Linked DNA regions of Homo sapiens: region 2 is linked to region 1. Evidence: fine-mapped expression QTL. A gene starts in region 1. The other region holds a variant in brackets. All regions are shown on one strand. Distances are between the middles of the regions. Region 1 holds the start of CCNY-AS1 (CCNY antisense RNA 1). Region 2 overlaps CCNY (cyclin Y).

Region 1 (5,375 bases):
TCTTTTCTCTCCAGGATTCTTGACCAAAAGTTACACTCTAAATTAAAGTCCAAACAGGTACATACCTAAGGGGAATATGGTGGAAATGTCAAAGAGGAGATAGGGAAAGAGGGGGAGGGGGGCGGGGCACAAAAATCCTGGCAGACCAGAGGCTGTACCACCCTTTGTTAAGGGTATGTGGCTACACTGATCTCTCATCCTCCAGATGCTCTTCCCAGTTAACACTGCCCAGTGACCTTCTTGGACAGGAAGCATGCAGCCAGCCATGCTGTCACCTTAGTGCCACTGTCTCTTTCTCCTCTTAAGCCCTTCAAACCATAATTTGAATGTAAATGTTATACATTTTATAATGAAATAAAAATAGCTTAATGCATCTGAGTAGATATGCCACACACCTATGGTCCAATGACTGGATGCTGACTTTCATATGTGGCCCAAATTACAAAGCAGCAATCAGAACAGACAACAACAGACAACAAGGGAACTTCTCTCCCACGGGTTCAGCAATCTGACCCAAACTCCATAGCCCCAGACAATCTGAATACACACATGCAAGTGTAAATATGCCCCAGTTTTCCCAGGAAGCAGGAAAATCTACACAGCCTCAATGAAGAGCACTATTTTGGACTGTTGTTGTCTACCCACCCTCTCCAGGGCTTTAATTCTTTAGAACTTCCCTTTTACACTTCTTTTCTCATCTGGTCAGCATTACCACTTTGCAGCCACTTATTTTCCATGGACATCTGCCACTTATCCTAACAAATAGCATTAATACAGTTGAGAGCATGGAGCGTTTAAAATATGGACTAATAAATGTATAAACAGTACTTTGAGAGGGAGGGAAAGCACAGGTTAAAAAATGGCTAGATGTAGAGAATTAAATGAAATGTTTATAAAGCCGTTCACACGATGTCCACACATTGCTGATGCTAGATAAATATCAAGTCCCTTATTCCTTCTCTTACCTTTTAGTAACTGGATTTGTCACGAACAGGTACTGAGGTCTGCATAAATCAAGGCATGATTTCATCTCTGGGCCTCAGTTTCCTCATATATAAAATTAAGACAGTTGTACTATTGTACTAGTTTTTTTTTCAAGAACTAGTTCAAAAACATTCCCAGCTCCCACCCCCACCCCCCCACCCCACAAGACTCTCCTCAAGACTCCTTCAGTAAATATTTGGAAAAAGGGTGGGAAGTTTGTTTCTGCCACCTTATATTCTTCCCAATAAAGGCAAGAAAAGTCAGGGATGGCTGGCATTGTGGGCGTCGGGAGGGAATGCGAACCAACATTTACTCTACTTCTCTCCCAGCCAGGCATGTTCACATACCTTGATCTTAGTCAACTGGCCTAAGTTAACTTGTTCCCAACATGACAAAACCCGATGGCATTCTAAAAGCAAAGCAAAGCAAAGCAAGGGCAGTCGATGAGTTGTGTTAACTTAGTTTTCTATCTCATGTTAACCTCCAAGGAACTCAAAACAACTCCACAGCGAATTCAATATTAAAATAGCTCTGGGACCCCAAGATTTATTTCACAGCTTAAAGCAAGGTCACTATCAAGTCCTCGGCAAAGCTCAAAATACAATAGAAAACTCCCAAATCAAGCCCCAGCTTATTTAAATGCTTAGAAAAAAAAAATAGCCAGGTGCCGTGGCTCATGCCCGTAATCCCATGGGAGGAGTCCAGACGGGAGGATTCCTTGAAGACAGGAGTTCGATACCAGCCCGGGTTACGAAGCGAGATCCCATCTCTACAAAAAGTTAACACACACACACACACACATTCACCACCTTAGCCTGGCTTAGTGGCGGGCGCCCGTGTTACAAAGGGAGATCCCATCTCTACAAAAAGTTAACACACATACACACCCTACCTTAGCCTGGCGTAGTGGCGGGAGCCTGTAGTCCTCGCTACTTTGGAGACACACACACACACACACACCCGTAGTCCTCGCTACTTTGGAGACACACACACACACACACACACACACACCTTAGCCAGGCGTGGTGGCGCGCGCCTGTAGTACCGGCTACTTTGGAGGCTGAGGCGGGAGAATCGCTTCAGCCTAGGAGTTCGAGGCTGCAGTGAGCCGAGATTGCGCCACTGCCCTCCAGCCTGGGCGACAGAGCGAAATCATACCTCTAAAAAAATAAATTAGAAAAATAAAAAGACAAAAAGAGCCAGCCCGGTTTCGGAGAGGCAGGTGCAGCCTCAGCGCCCTGGGCCTGCGTCCCCGACCGGGCCCTGGCTGCGCTCCCGCCCGCTGCGGGCCCCGGGGACGCACCTCGCATCCCGCGCTGGGCCCCGTTCCGTCCAGCCCGGGGGAGTGGAGGAGGCAGAGGCCGGGTGGGGAAGGGCCTCCAGAAACCGAGCTCCCGACGACGTCTCCCGCGACCCCAGTGCCCGAGAGAGGAGCGGCCCCCGGGAGCGATCCCACAACCGCGCGGGGCTGCGCCGCCCCGAACCTCCCCGCGGCCGCCGATCTGCTTCCAGGGCAGAGGGAAGGGGCGGTGACGGGGCGGGGCGGGGGCTGCGGCGAGGGCGGGCGCCGCTGGCGAGGGAGGGCCGCCAGCATCCTCCCTGGCCGCGCCGCACCGCGCCGCGAGGAGTCCGGGGGCTGCGCCCACGCCCGCTGCCCGCCCGCTCGTCGGCTAGTCCCGCCGTCCGGCGCGGACACGCGTGCCCCCGGCTTGAACCGGAACCTCTTGCCGAGGCGGCCGCCGTCGCCGCAGCCGCCGGGGAAGCGGACACCAACTGGGGAAGCGCGGGGGGGAGGCGGCCTGCGCGGCGCCGCCCGCCATGGCCGCGGCGGGGTGAGGTAGGCGCGGCGGCCGCAGTCGCGCGGACCCGAGCGCTCCTCCGCCGCGGATAGGCCGGCCGAGGGGGAGCCGGGGCCGTCGCCCGCTCGTCGCCGCCGCCGCCGCCGCCGCCCATGGCGAGGCCCCGCCGCCGCCGCCGCTGCTGACCCGGCGGCCGGCCGCCGTTCCGCCCCCTCCCGTGGCGGCGAGCGGGCGGGCCTCCCCACACGCCCCCGCCGCCCGCGCCCCGCGTCCACCCGCGCCCCGCTCCCGGGGACTGGGAGAACAGGATAGCAGCAGGAGTCGGGGGGCCGCCGAAGATGGGGAACACTACCTCGTGCTGCGTGTCGTCCAGTCCCAAGCTCCGGAGGAATGCCCACTCCCGGCTGGAGTCCTACCGGCCAGACACGGACCTGAGCCGCGAGGACACGGGCTGCAACCTGCAGCACATCAGCGACCGGGAGAACATAGACGGTGAGTGCGGCCCGCCGAGCCCCCTACCCGCCCCCGCGGCAACAGTCGCACAGCCAACGTCGGGGCGGCCCGGCTGCTCTTGCTTGCCCAGCCGGTCTCGGCGACCCGTGCATAACCGGGGCTTCGCCCGCGCAGCCTAGGCGCCCGGGGCCCCGCAGCCTCTGGGCGTACCCCTCGCTGGTTACCCCCAAGTGAGCGGCCGCGGAAACTTTGCAGGCCCGCGGCATCGAGCACGGCGGGCCTAGGGCGGGTGTGTGCGCGTGGGTCGCGAGGTGACAGGAGCCGGCCCTCGTCCTTAATGGAGCGGCCAGAGCTGGGTGGGGGCGGCCCGGGAGCTCGGGGTTCCCGGCACTACCTGAATGCAGCCCGAAGCCAAGTTGTGCACGCGTTTGTCCTATAAAAGCGAAGTGAGTGGATTCCCATTTTGGAATCCCGGTGTCTCCAACCTCGAGTTGGAGAACCATGTTGAGTCAGTTCCCCGGAACCTTACAAATGGACTCCACTTCCCCCGTTCCCATTCTACCGTTTTTTTTAAAAAATGATTTTTTTGAGTGGCGGTTCCAGGATTAGTCAAATAGCTTCTCCCGAGAATGCTCTTTAAAAGATTGTCAGACACCTTTGGGTTAAGTCTCAGTTTTTGCATGGGCCCGAATTGCAGTCCTATGAATTTCTGATTTATTCAGGTGACTTTTGGTTGGTCTGGAGTTTGCAAAAAGAAAAAAAGCTAAGACTAATTACTGCACGCAGTAATGTTTTATTTATTTTATTGGTTTGGCAACATATTTATTAGCACTGTTGCTCAGTGATAACGACAGAGGGATATTTATGCATCATGCTTAAAATATAGTTTATAGAATTTTCAACTGAAAAGATTTGAAATTGGAAGTATCTTTTTATGACAAGGTGATTTTTTTAACCCAAACATCTTCTCATAGTTAATCTGGTTGAACTAATATGAAGAAATTTTTGTGTGAATGAATGAACACAACTTCATAATTCGTTCCTGTCCACTTTAGGATGGAAGATTCTCTCCACTGTGGAAAGGCCACATTTAAACTTTGCTAAAGGAAAGATTTTTCTCGTTTGTCTTCGTGTAATTTCTTCTAAATGGTAGTTTAATCTTTTTAGGAGAGCATCTTTATTAAATGAGTGCCATGTATAAAGGGAGTAACACAACGTCTGGTTTCTAGTACGCGCTTAGTAAATTATGGTTCCATATGACGTGTCTAGTGTTGTTATTTTAGATTTCCATTATTTTAAACATACGCTTAGATGTCTTTGAACTACAGCCATACTTTCTTCTTAAATTTATGCATTTAAAGGCATCTAGAAGGATGAAGGCCAGATCGGTCTTGATCACTTTCACAGCCTCTAGCACCTGAAAGAAAAGTCTAGCATATAATAAACAGTAAGTATTGTACTTTAAAGGGAGGAATAAATGAATGAGTTTATTACAGAAAGCCATTACCCAGTCCTATACTATGTTGACAGGCGAAAACATTTGGAAATAATGTCTTCTTTATGATGTGCAGTAAATTTCCTTTTTATGTTGTGCAGTATCTAGCGGAGGCTTTGTTTTGAATGATGGATCAAAAAAGAAAAAAAAGAAGATTTACATTTCTTAGAGCCAGGCTGCATACAGTTATTATAGACTATTGTAAGGAAATAAGGTGGAAAAAATAAGTGTAACCAGGTATTTGGCACTAAGGCTCAGTACAATTTTGCCAGAGTACAGTGAAATGATATTGTGTGTTCTTTCATTTCAAAGAAATCTTAAGTTTCAGTCATCAGGAATTTTTGAGAGAATGTTTGGAAGACTCTTTTGCAGATTCAGGATAGTTTGAGAGAGTATAGGGCAGGTTTCCAATCTAGGCTGTGGAGTGCCCTCTCATCCCAGATCCCAGTTCATATGATTATGCTAGTTTAAACCCCGAAATATTAATTCACCTTCTGTCTCTCAAATTCAATAAATAATACTTCTAGCATTGACCCAGCCAGCAGTTCTCAACATTGGTTTCAGTTAAACCAGAAATCTAGTACTGGACATTGCCATTAATATGTTTAAATCTCTCCAAGGTGATTCTGAGATGCAGGTAGGCC
Region 2 (5,375 bases), 70 kb after region 1:
GGAGAGCTAGTGTGGGGGCAGCTTCTAGGGCTGTTTTTAAGGAACAGAAAGAGGAGTGGTGAAAGGATTTAGGATCTATGGAGTCATCTAGGTTTGGTTTTGTGAGTTTATATAATGGTTTTGTTAGGATGGCCGTCAATACCCACAACAGTTATGGAGGCAAGGGAAACAGGCCCTTGAAAATAAGGTAATGTGGAGTGAGTAGTCTCCTTATTGATTAAGAAGGGGACGGATTTACCTTCCACTGTAAGAGTTACCCAAAGCTTGGCATCCGTGATGGTCCAGGGGGCTTCCGAGGCTATCTAAAGGTGAAAGTATCCAAACATGCCCAGGAAGGAAAGGAGTTGTTGTTTTGTGGAAGGGGTTGGGGTTTGGGAGATTAGTTGGACACAATCAGCAGGGAGAACACGTATGTTTTAATGAAGAAATATGTCAAGATAGGTAATGGATGAGGAAGAAATTTGGGCTTGACTGAAGTAGTAGGGGCTGTCCACGAAGCCTTGCAGCAGTACAGCCCAGGTAATTTGCTGAGCCTGATGGGTATCAGGGTCAGTCCAAGTGAAAGCGAAGAGAGGCTGGTATGAAGGGTGCAAAGGAATAGTAAAGAAAGCATGTTTGAGATCCAGAACAGAATAATGAGTTATGGAGGGGTTGTGGAGGGAGGTATTGAGGATAGGAGAGTATATGACTTTGGCACCACTGGGTGGATAGGCAAGACAATTTAGTTGATAAGGTGCAGATCCTGAACTAACCTGTAAAAGCCTTGTCTGGTTTTTGGACAGGTAAAACAGGGGAATTGTAAGGAGAGTTTACAGGCTTTAAAAGGCCATGCTGTAACAGGCAAGTGACAACAGGTTTTAATCCTTTTAAAGCATGCTGTGGGATGGGATATTGGCATTGAGCAGGATAAGGGTGATTAGGTTTTAATGGGATGGTAAAGGGTGCATCATTTGTTGTCAAGGAGGGAGTAGAGGTGTCCTATGCTTGTGGACTAAGAAGGGGAGATACAAGGAGAGGATGTGAAGGAGGCTTTGAACTGGGGCAAAAGGTGGCAGTGAGGTACAGCTGTAGCCCAGGAATAATCAGGGAAGCAGATAATGTAGTTAAAAGTCTCGACCTAATAAGGGAGCCGGGCAGGTGGGGATAACTAAAAAGGAGTGCATAAAAGAATATTGTCCAAGTTGGCACCAGAATTGGGGAGTTTTAAGGGGTTTAGAAGCCTGGCCGTCAATACCCACAACAGTTATGGAGGCAAGGGAAACAGGCCCTTGAAAATAAGGTAATGTGGAGTGAGTAGCCTCCATAATGATTAAGAAGGGGACGGATTTACCCTCCACTGTAAGAGTTACCCGAAGCTTGGCCTCCATCATGGTCCAGGGGGCTTCCGAGGCTATTGGGCAGTGTCAGTCTTCAGCCACTAAGCCGAGAAGATCTGGGAAGGAGTCAATCAGAGCCTTGGGCCAGTTGGACAGTCCAGTTTCCAGTGGGGTCCTGCACAGATGGGACACGGTTTAGGAGGAATCCCGGGCTGCGGGCATTCCTTGGCCCAGTGGCCAGATTTCCGGCACTTGAAGCAAGATCCTGGGGGAGGAAGTTCTAGAGGAACCCCTGGCAACTGTGGTTCAGGCGTTTGGAGTTCTTGTGTGCTGGAGATGTGGCTGGGGTTTGTCTCACAGTGGAGGCAAGGAATTGCACCTCAGAAATACATTGCTACTTGGCTGCCATTACTCTATTACTGTACACCTTGAAAGCGAGGTTAATTAAGTCCTGTTGTGGGGTTTGAGGGCCAGAGTCTAATTTTTGGAGCTTTTTCTTTTTTTTTTTCTTTTTTATTTTATTTATTTATTTATTTATTTATTTATTTATTTATTTATTTTTTTATTGATCATTCTTGGGTGTTTCTTGTAGAGGGGGATTTGGCAGGGTCACAGGACAATAGTGGAGGGAAGGTCAGCAGACAAACAAGTGAACAAAGGTCTCTGGTTTTCCTAGGCAGAGGACCCTGTGGCCTTCCGCAGTGTTTGTGTCCCTGGGCACTTGAGACTAGGGAGTGGTGATGACTCTCAACGAGCATGCTGCCTTCAAGCGTCTGTTTAACAAAGCACATCTTGCACCGCCCTTAATCCATTTAACCCTGAGTGGACACAGCACATGTTTCAGAGAGCACAGGGTTGGGGGTAAGGTCACAGATCAACAGGATCCCAAGGCAGAAGAACTTTTCTTAGTACAGAACAAAATGAAAAGTCTCCCATGTCTACCTCTTTCTACACAGACACGGCAACCATCCGATTTCTCAGTCTTTTCCCCACCTTTCCCCCCTTTCTATTCCACAAAACTGCCACTGTCATCATGGCCTGTTCTCAATGAGCTGTTGGGCGCACCTCCCAGACGGGGTGGTGGCCGGGCAGAGGGGCTCCTCACTTCCCAGTAGGGGCGGCCAGGCAGAGGCGCCCCTCACCTCCCGGATGGGGCGGCTGGCCGGGCGGGGGGCTGACCCCCCCCCACCTCCGTCCCCGTCGGGGCGGCCGGCCAGGCAGAGGGGCTTTTTGGAGCTTTTTCTAATGTCGGGAGCGGATTGGGTAATAAAATGCATATTGAAAATAAGGCAGCCTTCTGGCCCCTCTGGGTCTAGGGTGGTAAAGCGTCTAAGGGTTGTTGTCAAACAGGCCTTGAATTGGGTTGAGTTTTTGTATTTGATGAAAAAGAACCTAAATGCTAACTGATTTGGGAGAGGTCAGATAAAGAAAAAAGGAGCATTAACCTTGATTATGCCTTTAGCTCCAGCCACCTCTTTAAGAGGAAATTGTTGGGCAGGTCGGGGAGGGCTAGTCATGGAACGAAACTGTAA[A/G]CCAGACTGGGTGTGGGGAAGGGAGGTGATAGAAGGATTATAGGGTGGGGAAGCAGAGGCTGAGGAAGAATTGGGACCTGGCTTGGCCTGGCAAGGAGCAGCCTGGGGAGGAGGGGAGAGAGGTCAGATGGGTCCCTAGAAAAGGAAGATTCAAAAGACTCAGAGACGCTTGGGGTTAGGACTGAAGGAACAGACAGGAGAGAAAGAAGAAAGATTTGGGACGACTCTCATTGGGAGCAGAGACTAGGGAGGGACCAGTGTGTAAAAGAATGCCTGGACATCAGGCACCTCAGACCGTTTGCCCATTTTACGACAAGAATTATTTAGATCTTGTAGGATGGAAAAATCGAAAGTGCCGTTTTCTGGCTATTTGGAACCACTGTCGAGTTTGTATTGGGGTCAAGCGGCATTGCAGAAGAAAATAAGACGCTTAGATTTTAGGTCAGGTGAGAGTTGAAGAGGTTTTAAGTTCTTGAGAACACAGGCTAAGGGAGAAGAAGGAGGAGTGGAGGGTGGAAGGTTGCCCATAGTGAAGGAGGCAAGTTTAAAGAGAAGGGTAGAGACACGGAGAAGGGGGGTGGGGAGCAGCCAAAGCAGGCGTCTCCGCACTTGACTTGCCACCAAGGGAATGTGGATGAATGACCAAGGCAGACGTCCCCACGGAGATCAGACACCAGTGGAACGTGGGTGAATAATCAGAGAGGCGTCCTCGCAATGATTAAACACCAAGGGAAGTCTGCCTTCCCGAGTCCGTGACTGGCGCTGGAGTTTTGGGTCAATGGATAAAATATGTCTCCTTTGTCTCCACCAGAAAATGAAAGGAGTTGAAATTAAGAGAAGGGAGAGATTGAAGGGTGGCGCCAAGATTAAAAGGAGAAAGAGGTTGAGGGATAGTGAGAGAGGTTGGAGAAGAGAGTAAAAAGAGGCTGCTTACCTGATCTAAAATTGGGGAGATGTTCCTTGGGCTGGTTAGTCTGAGGACCTGAGGTCATAGGTGGATCTCTTCACGGAGTGAGGGTGAGGACAGGGGACTGGTCTCCCGAAGGAGTCCCGCTGACCTGGGTCTTCGGCACCAAATGTCTCACATGTGCATGTGAAGAGACCACAAAACAGGCTTTGTGTGAGCAACAAGGCTGTTTATTTCACCTGGGTGCCGGCAGGCTGAGTCAGAAAAGAGAGTCAGCAAAGGGTGGTGGGATTATCATTAGTTCTTACAGGTTTTGGGATAGGCAGTGGAGTTAAGAGCAATGTTTTGGGGGCAGGGGGTGGATCTCGCACATTCTCAAGGGCGGGGAGAATTACAAAGAACCTTCTTAAGGGTGGGGGAGATTATGAAGAACCTTCTTAAGGGTGGGGGAGATTACAAAGTATATTGATCAGTTAGGGTAGGGCAGAAACAAATCACAATGGTAGAATATCATCAGTTAAGGCTCTTTTCACTTCTTTTGTGGATCTTTAGTTGCTTCAGGCCATCTGGATGTATACGTGCAGGTCACTGGGAATATGATGGCTTAGCTTGGGCTCAGAGGCCTGACAGTAATATGATGGGTTGAGGGAAAGTTATCAGAAGAGAAAAAGAACAAAAAAATTTCTAGCTTTACTGGAGAATGTTGAAGATGGGGTAAGCAGAGGTTTACGCTAGAAATGGATTCAAGTAGACAAACTGTATTATTTCATCATAAATGCCTCTACTTTGTTCTTTCCTCCCATTACCCTGCTCAATTCTTGTTTTTGTTTTTTTTTTTTCATTCTAGTTATGAAGAAAAACAAAAAGAGTTATTTTGTCTTGACCCAATGCAAAGATGAAAGCAGAAATCAGATTTACCCTATGTAATAGCTTATTACTGGGCAAAGAAATGAAGTACATTAAGGAGGCCTTTTTTTTCCTCCAATGGCTGTTAGATTGTGTATTGCAACCAGGAGTTGTCAAGCTCCTGATCCTAATCCAAGCTGGGGACTGTGGTACAGTGTGGCCAGCTGCCTTGCCAGCTGCCTTACCAGGCAGGTCTCGCATCTGCCATTGTCATCCCATTGGAATCAAGTTGCAAGCCAGTGAACTTGCTGGGGTGTGCCCAGGTCAGAACAGTTACAGCTTAAAAGCCTTTGCTGCCCTTTTTCAGATCCTGTTCCTGGGAGAGTCTCCCACACTAAGTTCAGTGTGGGTACCAGCTGTGGTGAGGGTGTGCTGCCACTGCAGCTGCTGTCTGGGCATCTGTGTTAGGGCCAATACTTCAAGAAGTGTGAGTCATTGTGAAGTGACTGTAGGCAGCTGGGAAATAACAGCTGTGAACAGAAAAAAGACTGGAGGCGTGCTCTCTGGAGGTCTGGGCATAGTGATGAGAGGCTGAGGAACAGAGAGGGAAAAGAAAAATGCAATTCTAAAATTAAAAAGAAAACCTTAATTTAAACCGTGATTTACAGATAATTCCCATGTGTGAGAGACAGTATAGGAAACACTCCAAAGAGCTTGCGTTAAAACAAAAATAAGTAAAAATGTAAAGATTTCCTGCCCCTATGTGAAAAAAGC

What was found. PIP is the estimated chance that this variant, and not a neighbour inherited with it, causes the effect.
Region 2: its variant is the best candidate, but not a certain one, in a credible set for the expression of CCNY-AS1 in thyroid (GTEx, PIP 0.70).

What each region holds. Positions count from the first base shown.
Region 1 is chr10:35,333,933-35,339,307 of GRCh38, forward strand. It overlaps CCNY-AS1 (CCNY antisense RNA 1), which reads right to left and starts at 2,492. Exons shown (of 4, transcript NR_186477.1): 1 at 2,288-2,492; 2 at 1,996-2,144. It overlaps CCNY (cyclin Y), which reads left to right and starts at 2,577. Exons shown (of 10, transcript NM_145012.6): 1 at 2,577-3,275. The coding sequence starts at 3,122. RefSeq lists a silencer at 2,203-2,942.
Region 2 is chr10:35,404,369-35,409,743 of GRCh38, forward strand. The region is part of intron 1 of CCNY (cyclin Y); the gene reads left to right. Among named protein-coding and RNA genes, the nearest start is that of CCNY, 71 kb to the left of the region's middle. The variant A/G (reference allele first, on the strand shown) is at 2,849.